Homo sapiens: one gene and its partners. Changing the gene in region 1 together with any one later gene gives a genetic interaction. Each region holds a gene or a part of one and is shown in the gene's direction. Other genes may lie near its edges.

Region 1 (3,500 bases):
TTTGCCTTTCTTTATAATCATTATTAGTGTCCTGTTATGGTTATTTGGAACTTTACAATTTATAAAGCATGTTCACATTTATTATTACTTATTAATCCTATGGTAGGCAGGACAAATGTTTGCTTTATTTTGTAAATGAAGTAACTGGAATCCAGACCATATTTTTCCAGGTCATATAGCACAAAATGGTATACACCTGGAAACTTTCATACTGACTAGAACCACAGTTCCCCTTTCCTTCAAGTCAGAGTTCTTTCCACTAAGGGAATCATCTCCAAGTGCAGATTACAAAGAGCAAGACATGTCAATAGGTGAAAAAATTTCCAGTATCCTTGCTAGAAGACCATGCAACAAATATTTGGTGGGCAATAGCCAGGGCTTGGAAAAATTCCTTGAAATCATTGAGGCCCAGCTTTATCATTAGAAAAATAGGGATATAATAGTTCTTAAATGTTCCTAAATGGGGATAGTAATAGTTCAAGGTGTTGTCATGAGGATTAAATTAGATGATGTGTGCAAATCCTTAACCCAATGCCTGATGCAAAATAAAGTGCTTCATCAATATGAACCACTATTGTTTTTTTATATAATAGCAACAGCTGCACTCCAGCATCTGGTCATGCAGGCTGTGCACTCTGCAACTCTAGGGGTTCCATATACATTTTAGTCTGTCTGAATGGTGCCATCTGGAGTTGTAATCTCTATGTGTGGCCATGTGTGGCAATCTTGGCAGCAGCAGTTGTGATGCTGTTGTTCTCCATTCAACTAGCTTCTTACCCCTAAGAGATGAAAGGTGGGATGTATGGGAAATGAAGAGAGTTATAAGTGTAGTAGTTTCTACCATTTCACCATGGAAGGCGACTTTCTCAGAAATATGCATGGAAAGGAGGATTGAAGTGTGGTATTTACTTCCTCCCCATGAATTAATGTCCTCTCGTAAGCCTTTTGACTTTGGATTCAGTTCAAAGAGTCCACCAGCATATTCGCAATCCAGTTCTTTTTTCCTACAGAAGGAAACCAAGGCTTAACTTTATGAAAATATGAAAGTTAAGATGGAGGAAGAACAAGATAGAGATGTTACAGCGGAATCATTTTCAGATGGCAGACGTTTCTTAACTGAGAGTGCTCTGTCCAGGTCTAGAGGCACTGGGCTACTGGCCTCTGGTAACTCTTTTATTTTAATTAGCTGAAGATGTGTTCTTTCTGTATTTTCAGCATCACCCTTCATTGCCAAGTGGAGAATATGGAGAGAAATGTAAATTACCAACTGGTTAATGGACCTGAGCACATTAAGAGCAGTTAAACTTTGAGACTCCCTGGAGACGTATAACCCAGGGACTTGAGTGGGAGGCTGCCTCAGGAAGATCCCTCAATCTAAAAAAAGAGGCTAAGAACCACAGAACATTTTGTACATGGTGGTTTCTATGAACCATAGCTGAGCCATTGCCTCCAAAAGATGCACATGAACATCATTTCTACTTGGGAGTAGATAAAAAATAAGGCGTGTGGGTGAGGATGGTTGTAGGTCTAGGATCATGTGGAGAGAGCTGAGAATAAAGCTATCAAGGAGTCCTTCTTCTTTACAGCCATTGTGTTGCTCTGTGGTCTAGGGTGTGGCCAATGTTTCTTAACCTTGTGATGACCAGGGCTCTTTCACACAGGTCAAGATGTAAGCAGGGAGTGTTGGCCTGGTGGTGAGGTAGTGGAGGAGGTTGGAGGCATTCTTCAGTATGCTTTTTGATTAATTGTATTTTTCAGAATAGCTTATTTTTCTTCAGTAAATTTTGTGATGAATTTTTCAGCTGGCTGTTCTGAGCTTGGGTCCTTTCCCAGGGAAATTCTATCAGATTCGCTTTGTGTTGTGGTGTACATATTCCAGAAAGTGGGCAGAGAAGATCTCCCTTGGGGAAGATACACCCAATCCCTTGGTTATTTAAGAGTCTTTTTTTTTTCTTGCACCTTACCTTTCTGACTAACAACAGGTGCATGCAGTGGTAGGCAGTCAGAAATCCTTAGAGTAAGAATAAAGCTAAAGGAAGGTATGAAAAAGGTATGAAGTTAGAGGACAAGGGAAATCTAGGCAGGCTTAAAGAAATCAGGAAACTAGCCAAAGGAAATGAGGATAGATTGAACCATTGGTTATATTTTTCTTTGACCCCTACTTATCTTTTATTTAGTTTTCATTGGAATGTGAGTTCATGAGGGTGAGCATGGAAAGGACTCTTTTAAGCCCAGATAAGTAAAGTAAGTGTTCTGTGGTGAGGAGAACACTAGATTAGGAGCTCGAAGACATGAATTCTATGATGTTCTTTATCTTTTGTTAGCTTTGCAATCTTCTACAACTCTCTTAAACTTGCTAAGCCTGTATATTTATATATGTATTATAAATAAAATATATATATATGCCAGTCATGCGTGTTTTAAATAACTTTTAAATAGAAAAATAGTCCTTTATAGCTATCCAGATATATACCATTTCTTTTGCTCTTCCCTTTTCCTCAAGTTTCAATATTTCCTATTTTATTATTTCCCTTCAGCCTAAAGAGGTCTTTTTTTGCATTTCCATTAGAATAAGACTATTGACGATAAATTCTCTTAGTTCCTGAAGGATATTTTTACTAGGTTCAGAATTATGCATTGACAGTTCCTTTCTTTCCACACTTTAACTATTTTGTTCCTGTGTCCTTCATAGTTTGTGATGAGCAATCTGCCATTACATTGTTGTTCCTTTTTGTAATTGCTTTCAATATTTTTTTCTTGGCTTTTGGTTTTCAGAATTTGATTATGATGTATCTCTGCATGGTTTTATTTGACTTTATCCTGTTTGTAGTTTTTTGAGACTCTTGAGTCTATAAGTTTATGTCTTTCATCAAATGGGATTTTTCAATTATTATTTTCTCCTTTTTTTCCTGCACCAATATATTCCTCTCCTGAGACTCTGATTACACACCTGTTAGATCTCCCATGCTCTTGAGACGCTGCTAATTTCTTTTTTTGAAATTTTTCTCTTTGTTCTGTAGATTGAACAATTTCTATTGACCTATCCTCAAGTTGATTGACTCTTTCCTCTGTTATCTCCATTCTGATATAATTATTTACTTTAGATATTTTAGTTTCCAGTTTAAATGTTTCATATTTGACAATGACTTCTGTTTCTTGATGAGAACTACCTTTCCATTCATTTTCCAGAGTGTTTACTTTCACCTTATGGGACATGGTCATAACAGCTTCTTTCACGTCTTTGATAATTCCAACATCTGGATGATCTTATTATTGGCATATGATATCTTTCCTCTTAAGAATTAGTCATTTTTTTTCTTTTATGTTGAGTAATTTGAGATTGTATCCTGCAAATTTTGTACATTACATTGTTTGGTCTGAGTTGGGTGTGGTTTGAACCTTTGCTTTGTTCTCAAAGCCTTTGTTATTCTGCTTTGAGTCTGTCCACACCTCTGCCACTCAGGTGAGCTGAGGCCCTTGGCCAGTTCCGTCAGCGAATT
Region 2 (3,500 bases), on another chromosome or scaffold:
TTGGTGTTGGGCAAGGCTCCCTGGATGATCTTTTTTTTTTTTGAGATGGAGTCTCGCTCTGTCGCCCAGGCTGGAGTGCGGTGGTGCAATCTCGGCTCACTGCCAGCTCCACCTCCCGCGTTCACACCATTATCCTGCCTCAGCCTCCCGAGTAGCTGGGACTACAGGTGCCCGCCACCAAGCCCGGCTAATTTTTTGTATTTTTAGTAGAGATGGGGTTTCACCGTGTTAGCCAGGATGATCTCCATCTCCTGACCTCGTGTTCTGCCCGCCTAGGCCTCCCAAAGTGCTGGGATTACAGGCGTGTGCCACCACGCCCAGCCCCTGGATGATCTTAATGAGCATCCAAGGCTGAGAGCTACTGAGCCAGTGTGGCCGAGCAAGGCAGCCCAGTGGTACAGACTACAGGCACCAGAGCCCACCAGATGTGGATTCCTTACCCTTGAACTACAAGACCTTGGACAAGGTTCTTAACCTCTCTGAATCCTAGTTACTCATCTGAAAAATGGGGATATGAGCAGTATCGGTCTCATAATCCCCAGGGCTACTGGGGATTAAATGAGATAATACTTCTGCGGTACTTGGCTCAGTTCCTACTACCCAGTATTATTATTATTACTATTGGAGCTAATCCTGATAACATTATCACCATTATCTATCACTTCTATCCCTCCTGCTTGCCACGTAGCTTCTTCCTTATCATCTAGTTTTTAGTATCAGCAATAAAACATGTTAGTTGCCTTCAAGTCCAACAAGACCATTAAAAAGGAAATCAGCATGGCAAATGTTAGCCAGCTGTTATTCCTTTTATAAATTGAGCCCGCATTTTCTCCCTCACTTGGACCTCACTTGCACAAGGTAAGTGAGGAAGATGAAGTAATCTTTATTTTCTAATTATTTCCCAAAGTAGTGTCTGTGTTCTGGTTGATTGCTCTCCAAATAAAAAGACCTGGCTTCAATTTAGAGGCGCACTGTTGAGATCAGCTTCTTAGAGCAGCCCTGGGTGGTAGGAAGCTGGGTTCCCCGAGGGCTCTCTCTGAAAAGCTTCTACTCTTAGAGACCACCACTGTTCTCATTGGGAGGTCCCCTGATTAAAATGCAGGGGGTCCCAAAGCCCTGCCAGATCTAGGGCGCCCATGCTCTCTGCTCAGCCACTGCATTTAACCAGCTGACGAGGGAGCTGGAGGACTATGTGGGGGACTGGCCATTTCCTTGGGTAATATTTGTAAAGCTGGTATGAACTACTTCACAAATGGAAGACAGAAATACAACCCTTCTTTTATTCTTAAATTAAAAATACACTCAAGCCCATACATGCTAAATTAGCAGAAGATTTATCAGTTCCTCTTGGGATTCCTCATCCCTTCTCCCCAAATTCTCCAATAACACCCAAAGACTTACACTGCCCAAAGCGCAATATTTGGAGGGGCGATGAGCTTCACATCCATGCCTTAGAAGGGAGAGCCTGCTATGGCTTCCCACTGCCACAGAAGGCCCTGTTGATAGCTGGTCCTACCCATCAGACAGAAGGTGCTGGTTCTCTGCTGATCCAGGCCTTGAGGAGTCTCCAAGGCAGCTAATCCCCGTCCTGTGCTAGGCTTGACTAAGGGCACCTTCTTTTGAGTTCCTAGGTAGTGTGGCTTTTGGCACCTGGTTCCTTCAGTCCCACAGGCCCACAACTCTAGGAATGTTCTTAAGAATGAGTGTAGCAGCTGGGCATGATGGCTCATGCCTGTGATCCCAGCACTTTGGGAGGCTGAGGCAGGCGGATCACTTGAGGTCAAGAGTTCGAGACCAGCCTGGCCAACATGGTGAAACCCTATCTCTACTAAAAATACAAAAATTAGCCGGGCATCATGGCATGCACCTGTAATCCCAGTTACTCAGGAGGCTGAGGCAGGAGAATTGCTTGAGCCTAGGAGGCAGAGGTTGCAGTGAGCTGAGATCGAGCCACTGCACTCCAGCCCAGGTGACAGAGCCAGACTCCATCTCAAAATAAAAATAATGAGTGTAACACTTGGGCCCTTGTGAGACCTTGGTCCTGCTGGACATGTCTGTCCCTAGGACAGGGATTCCTTTTTCTATGCAACCCTTCACATATCAAGGATCTCACTTTATTCTCTGTCTTGAACACCAGGGCTTTCTTCACTCTTCCATAAGGAACCTACCTTTAGGCAGTGGTCTCATGGTAGATATGTAATTAGCTTTGGAGGGGGGTCCTGATTTCTAGCATTTGCCAATTTCCGTGATGTACATACTCCCATCAGGGCCAGTTTCAAGCTACCAACTTGCCATCTTTTGTCACAGTGTTGTGAAGAGATGCCCCAATTGATTCTTACAGGCTGGCATGAGCTGGAGCAACCATTGCCTTTGGGGCTTCCAAGTTGGTTTGTCTTCCTCGAGTCATCCTGGTAGATTTCTGCACCTGTCACCCCAGAACAGAAGTAGAAGAAAAATCCAAGTTGATTTTCCACACATCTCCCTATATTTGGTTCTCATTTGTCTTCATGCATTGATTGGCTTCATAAGCATCATAAAGTAGGCATTGGCGAAGGCAATCTTGACATGCCTGGAACAGAAGTTAAGGCACAAAAGAGATACCTAATCCTGTCTTGTCCTTTTGGATGGTGAGGCTTTCTACCAGGTTAAATTCAGAGAAGTGGAAAATAAGGCTTTTAATTGTTGAAAATTGAAACTTTTATTTGTAAATAAATTTCTTTAAAACATCGCATACTATACAATATAAAAAGAGAGCTTTCCCTGAATTGTCTTTTCATATGTGGCTTTATTCTTTTTTTTTTTTGAGACAGAGTCTTGCTATGTCACCAGGGTGGAGTGCAATGGCACGATCTTGGCTCACTGCAACCTCCACCTCCCGGGTTCAAGCCATTCTCCTACCTCAGCCTCCCAAGTAGCTGGGACTACAGGCACACGCCACGACGCCCAGCTAATTGTTCGTATTTTTAGTAGAGATGGGGTTTCACCATGTTGGCCAGTATGGTCTCGATCTTTTGACCTCGTGATCCACCCACCTCAGCCTCCCAAAGTGCTGGGATTACAAGCGTGAGCCACCACACCCAGCCTGTGGCTTTATTCTTATGACATTTTAAATTCATACTTATAGCTCTCTCAAAAGCTGATGGAAAACTGCATTAAAATTTAAAAAGAAACCAATTGATGAATTTCATTTCTTTCTTAGGTGCAAGGGAGCAGCCAAGAGAGAGACAGACACGATGGATACCTTTGTTGATTCTGCTTGGTACTACTTCAGATACACTGACCCTCATAATCCACACAGGTAAAACGTCCCTGCTGATGTCTTTGAGCATTTGTCAGTGTGGCTCCTCCTAGAAGCAAAGACCAAGATGGAATTAGACATGCAAGAGATTTCTTGGGGGGAAATGCCTGTGCAGATTAAAGGGGAGAAGAGGAGGAGTGGGCAGAGAGTGCTCTTAGACCACGATGGAGCTGTGACAGGTGTGAAAGGAGAAGGGAAAGGA
Region 3 (4,242 bases), on another chromosome or scaffold:
CATGGTCCAGAAAGAAGAGATGACAGGTGCCAGTCTACAGCGATGGTGAGCAGAGGCCTGGGGGCTTGGCAGGTGGGTTCGCATCCTGGATCTGGCTGTTTCTTAGCTGAGTGACTTTGGGCAAGTTGCTCAACCACTGAGTGTCACTTTGCTTCATCAGCACGATGGGAATAAAAATGCCCACCTCTCAGAGCTGTTGTGATGATTAACTAAGGTAGTGTCTGCAGAGTCTCTGCACTACAAACGGCAGCTGCCATTCTAGAGGGACCACTGCCATGACTTCATGGGGACATTTCCATGGGGAGCCACAGGAGGTTCACTGGACAGGTGTGTATGTCCAGTGTTTAGGAGGTGCTCTTGAAGCAGATCTGTTACTCTCAGGAGGTTCTCTAAGCGCATATGTGACTTTGCCATGTGGGGATGGGGGGCAGGGAATTATAAGCTAGTGTATTCAAAACAGGAGCAGCCCTTGTAAGCAAAGCTGTTCCATTATAGCCAAGTCATGTGCATCTCAGCTCCAAAGGAGAAAGTGACCATTCTCATTGAATTCTCATCGCCACAACCTTGGGACTGCCTGAGATAAGACACTCCACTTCCAGGGCCCACCCTGAGTTTTCACTCACACCCTGGATGCCCATCTCCTTCCCTCACCCTGGCTGACATTCTCAGCCACACTGCCCTCCCCTGGTCTCCAGGGGCTGAATGCTCCCAGCCTCAGGGCTTTTGCCGTGGCTGTGCCATCCATCTGGCCTATCGAACCCATTTGCTCACAGCATCTCACCCCCTGTAATAATTTATTTCCCTCTTTCCTTGTACCCTGTCTGTCTTCTCCCCCAGGGCTGAGAGCTCCAGAAGGAACCAAGGACAGGGAGCCTGTCTTGTCCAGCTCTGGTGCCCAGCAGGAGAGCCAGGCTCATAGGAGGTCTGCAAGTAATGTTTCTGGACGAACTTATGAAAGGCAGGTCTTTTTATACCCATTTCATGGATGAGGAAACTGAGGCAGAGAGAGAGAGAGACAGGCAGACGCACACACCCCTAGACAGAGAGAAACACTCCTGGAGAAAGAGAAAGGGAGGGAGAGAGGGAGGGGGAGGGAGGGAGAGAGAGAGAGAGAGAGAAAGAAAGAAAGAAAGAAAGGAAAGAAAGAAAGAAAGAAAGAAAGAAAGAAAGAAAGAAAGAAAGAAAGAAAGAAAGAAAGAAAGAAAGAAAGAAAGAAAGAGAGAAAGACAGCGCAGCTCCAGCCTGCCTGTATCCAGGGTTGAGGTGGGCGTGAGAGACACACGCAGGCAGGGCTGCAGTTCCGGGCAGGCCTTGGGGGCTCAAGATGCGGCTCCCCAGGGCGAGTGCTGGGGTCCCGGGGCAGGCGGGCGGCTGGAGCCCTCTCGTGGGCGGGCGCAAGGGGCAGGCTGGGCGGGCGCAGGCGGGAGCGTAGCAGCCGCTCCACTCCGCACGCAGGCAGCATCGGGGCAGCAGGAGCAGGTGAAGCAGGCGCGGCTCTGCCCCGCGCCTGGTGCCCCCTGGGCACAGGAGTGCGGCCGGGGGCGGGGCCGAGTGGGCCCCGGTACGAACCCTCCGGGAAGCCGGGCGCGCTGCCTGCCCTTGGCCCGGGGCGCAGAGCGTCACACTGGATCTGGGGAGCATCCTACCCCCACTGTGGACCTCAGTCTCCTCACCTGAGACATGGGCGGCCCCATCCGCACCCTGTAAGCCGCAAGCCAAGGAGGTAAGGGGTGCATCTGAGGTGTCTGGGCGCTATGGGCATTAGGATATAGTAGCTTTTGCTGAGATTTCAGGAGACAAAGCAAAGGGCCTTCCCTATTCTAACCCCACTGGGAGATTAGCATTGTGTGTATGATTCATTAATTTTCCTCTGATTGACTGGGAAGGCAGGCTGCAGGGGGTCCCTGTTGGGGCTTGCAGCTGGTTCTAGTTTTTGTATCTGGAGAGCTGCCTGGGGACAAAATGCAGAGACACCATTTTATTGACCTTGCGTAATAATCTACCCTCCCCCTCATACACTCGCCACCCCCTTGGGTGTGCCTGAGGGACTTGAGGTCCCCTGGTCCTCACTGGTCAGTGTACCCCAAGCCCAGCAGCCCCAGGCAGATGCCCAACACCACCTTTTCAGTGCTCCTCCTCCTCCTGTCTTGGCCCTCTCTGCCAATCCATTTTCTATATCCAAGTGATCTTACTGGAATGGACCTGACCTTGCTGGTCTGGCCCACCACTCCAGCTTCATCATCTGCCACCCTGGAACCTCTTATTCTGCTTACTTTTCCCAGCAGGCTCTGCTCCTTCCTGCCTCTGTGCCTTTGCACATGCTGTTCCTTGCACTTCGAGTTCCCTCCTCTCCCTGTCCCTTTGGCTGGTTGACTCCTCTTCAGCCTTTGAGCCCTGTACCATTGCCACCTCTTCTCTCACCTCCCTGCTCCCTGCTCCTTCTCTGATCTCTCAACTCACAGGCCTCTCTTTCATATTGGTGTTGGCAATGGCAATGAGTTCCATCTGCATTCGTGCTGGTCAGCCCCTCTGCTCTGGGAGGGCCATGACTGTATAAGTCATCTTTGCAGCCCTTGTTTCTAGCCCAGGGCTTGACACACACTTATTGAGTGGGTGAATGAAGCAGTGAGCATTTTCTGGAGCCCTCCCAGCCCAGTCCTTCCACTCTGATCCTGCTTTAGGTGGTTGGTTTGGGATGAATGGTGTTTCTCCACACCACTGGCCAAGCCTTGCTGATGGTCACCCAGAGCCTTGGGTTCTGGCCCATTTGCTGCTTCTGAGTGCAGTGCCTCTGCCACAGGTTCATGCAGCTGCGACTGTTCTTTATCTTATATTGGGCCCTGTGTTTGGCTCTGGAATAGTTTATTTTGCCATGTTCAGCCCCAAATGGCCCTTTTTGCCCGAAGACCATAGTGCTGGAGAAATCTTCCTGCCTTCGAGATCTGGTTCCTAAATAACCAGACTGTAAACTATCAGGTGAATTCACAGCTTGATCTTTTAAATGACCAAATGAGACTCTTTTTTTTTTTTTTGAGACAGAGTCTCGCTCTGTTGCCCAGGCTGGAGTGCAGTGGTGCACTCTCTGCTGACTGCAACCTCCGCCTCCCAGGTTCAAGTGATTCTCCTGCTTCACCCTCCCATGTAGCTGGGACTACAGGCATGCACCACCACACTTGGCTAATTTTTGTATTTTCAGCGGAGACGGGGTTTCACCATGTTGGCCAGGCAGGTGTTGAAGTCCTGACCTTAGAAACTCATCTTTATAAGTAGATCAGATGCACAGCAAGTGACATTCATGACAGCCGACAAATAGATTTTACTGAGCTCTGGTTGATTTTGGCCTTGTGCTCTGCAAAAACTGCCTTAACATAGCAATTGATCATGTAAAAAATACATATGGCCATGATATGAGACTTAAAGAATATCTCAAATAGGGTTTTCTGCTATAGTGTTTTACAAGATGGGGTCCAAGGGCCATGTGCATCAGAATCACATAGTCTACTTGTTAAATACAGATTCCTGGCCCCCATCCTGGATTCACTTAACTACATCTCCTGGTGGAAGGGCCCTGGGATCTGCACTTTCAACATGCTTCTAGAATGATTCTGATGTTTACTGAAGGTTGAGAACTGCAACCCTGTGGGATTAATAATGACTAGAGAATCTGAGAGGTGAGTCACAATGATGTATGTAGTGGTATGGTGCTTCCCATGCAAAACATCCATCATTGGCACTAACACGGGGGAACTCTGGAGTCTAAATTCCAACTCAGTCTTGGCAGGGGGTCCGTTGTGCTGAGGAGGTCCTCGGAGAAGGGACAGCCTGTACCAGGGCATAGAGATGTGGAAGAGTCTGGTGTGCTTGTGAGCTGCACACTGCATCAAGTGACTTGAACATAGTCATGGAGTAGGTTCTGTGGAGGGCACTGGGCACCTGTGACTTTGGCCAGGTATGTCTGTGCACATGGTGGGTAGTAGGAAGAAGCTGGTGTGCTGATGAGCCAGGCTTTGCATACTGGGCAGTCTTCAGTTTTGCCAGGTATCACCTAAAAAACAAGGCTACCAGGGCAGGGAGGGGCTGAGACCAGGAGGGTGCACTGATTGTGGATCCCCGAGGCTTTAGCTCTATCTTGAAGGGAATGGGGTGCCGTGGAAGGACACAAGCAATCCTGTGCAGAGTGGCATTTATTGCTGTCTCCATTAAGATAAAATGTGACAAGGGGCATTCTACCCATGTTCCCTG

Evidence for each region. A genetic interaction does not mean that the proteins touch.
Region 2: changes in ALK (region 1) and LARS2 together harm fitness less than expected from each alone (positive genetic interaction), as found in Homo sapiens cells (one large-scale study listed by BioGRID).
Region 3: changes in ALK (region 1) and NPY4R together harm fitness less than expected from each alone (positive genetic interaction), as found in Homo sapiens cells (one large-scale study listed by BioGRID).

The regions. Positions count from the first base shown.
Region 1 is NC_000002.12:29,911,587-29,915,086, reverse strand, and holds part of ALK (ALK tyrosine kinase receptor isoform 1 precursor), read left to right. Parts: intron 1-3,500. UniProt on the Homo sapiens protein: Neuronal receptor tyrosine kinase that is essentially and transiently expressed in specific regions of the central and peripheral nervous systems and plays an important role in the genesis and differentiation of the nervous system.
Region 2 is NC_000003.12:45,493,076-45,496,575, forward strand, and holds part of LARS2 (leucine--tRNA ligase, mitochondrial), read left to right. Parts: intron 1-2,168; exon of another isoform or gene 2,169-2,425; intron 2,426-3,199; coding exon 3,200-3,298; intron 3,299-3,500.
Region 3 is NC_000010.11:46,463,159-46,467,400, reverse strand, and holds the start of NPY4R (neuropeptide Y receptor type 4), read left to right. Parts: upstream 1-1,442; 5' UTR 1,443-1,723; intron 1,724-2,668; exon of another isoform or gene 2,669-3,515; 5' UTR 3,516-3,671; intron 3,672-4,242.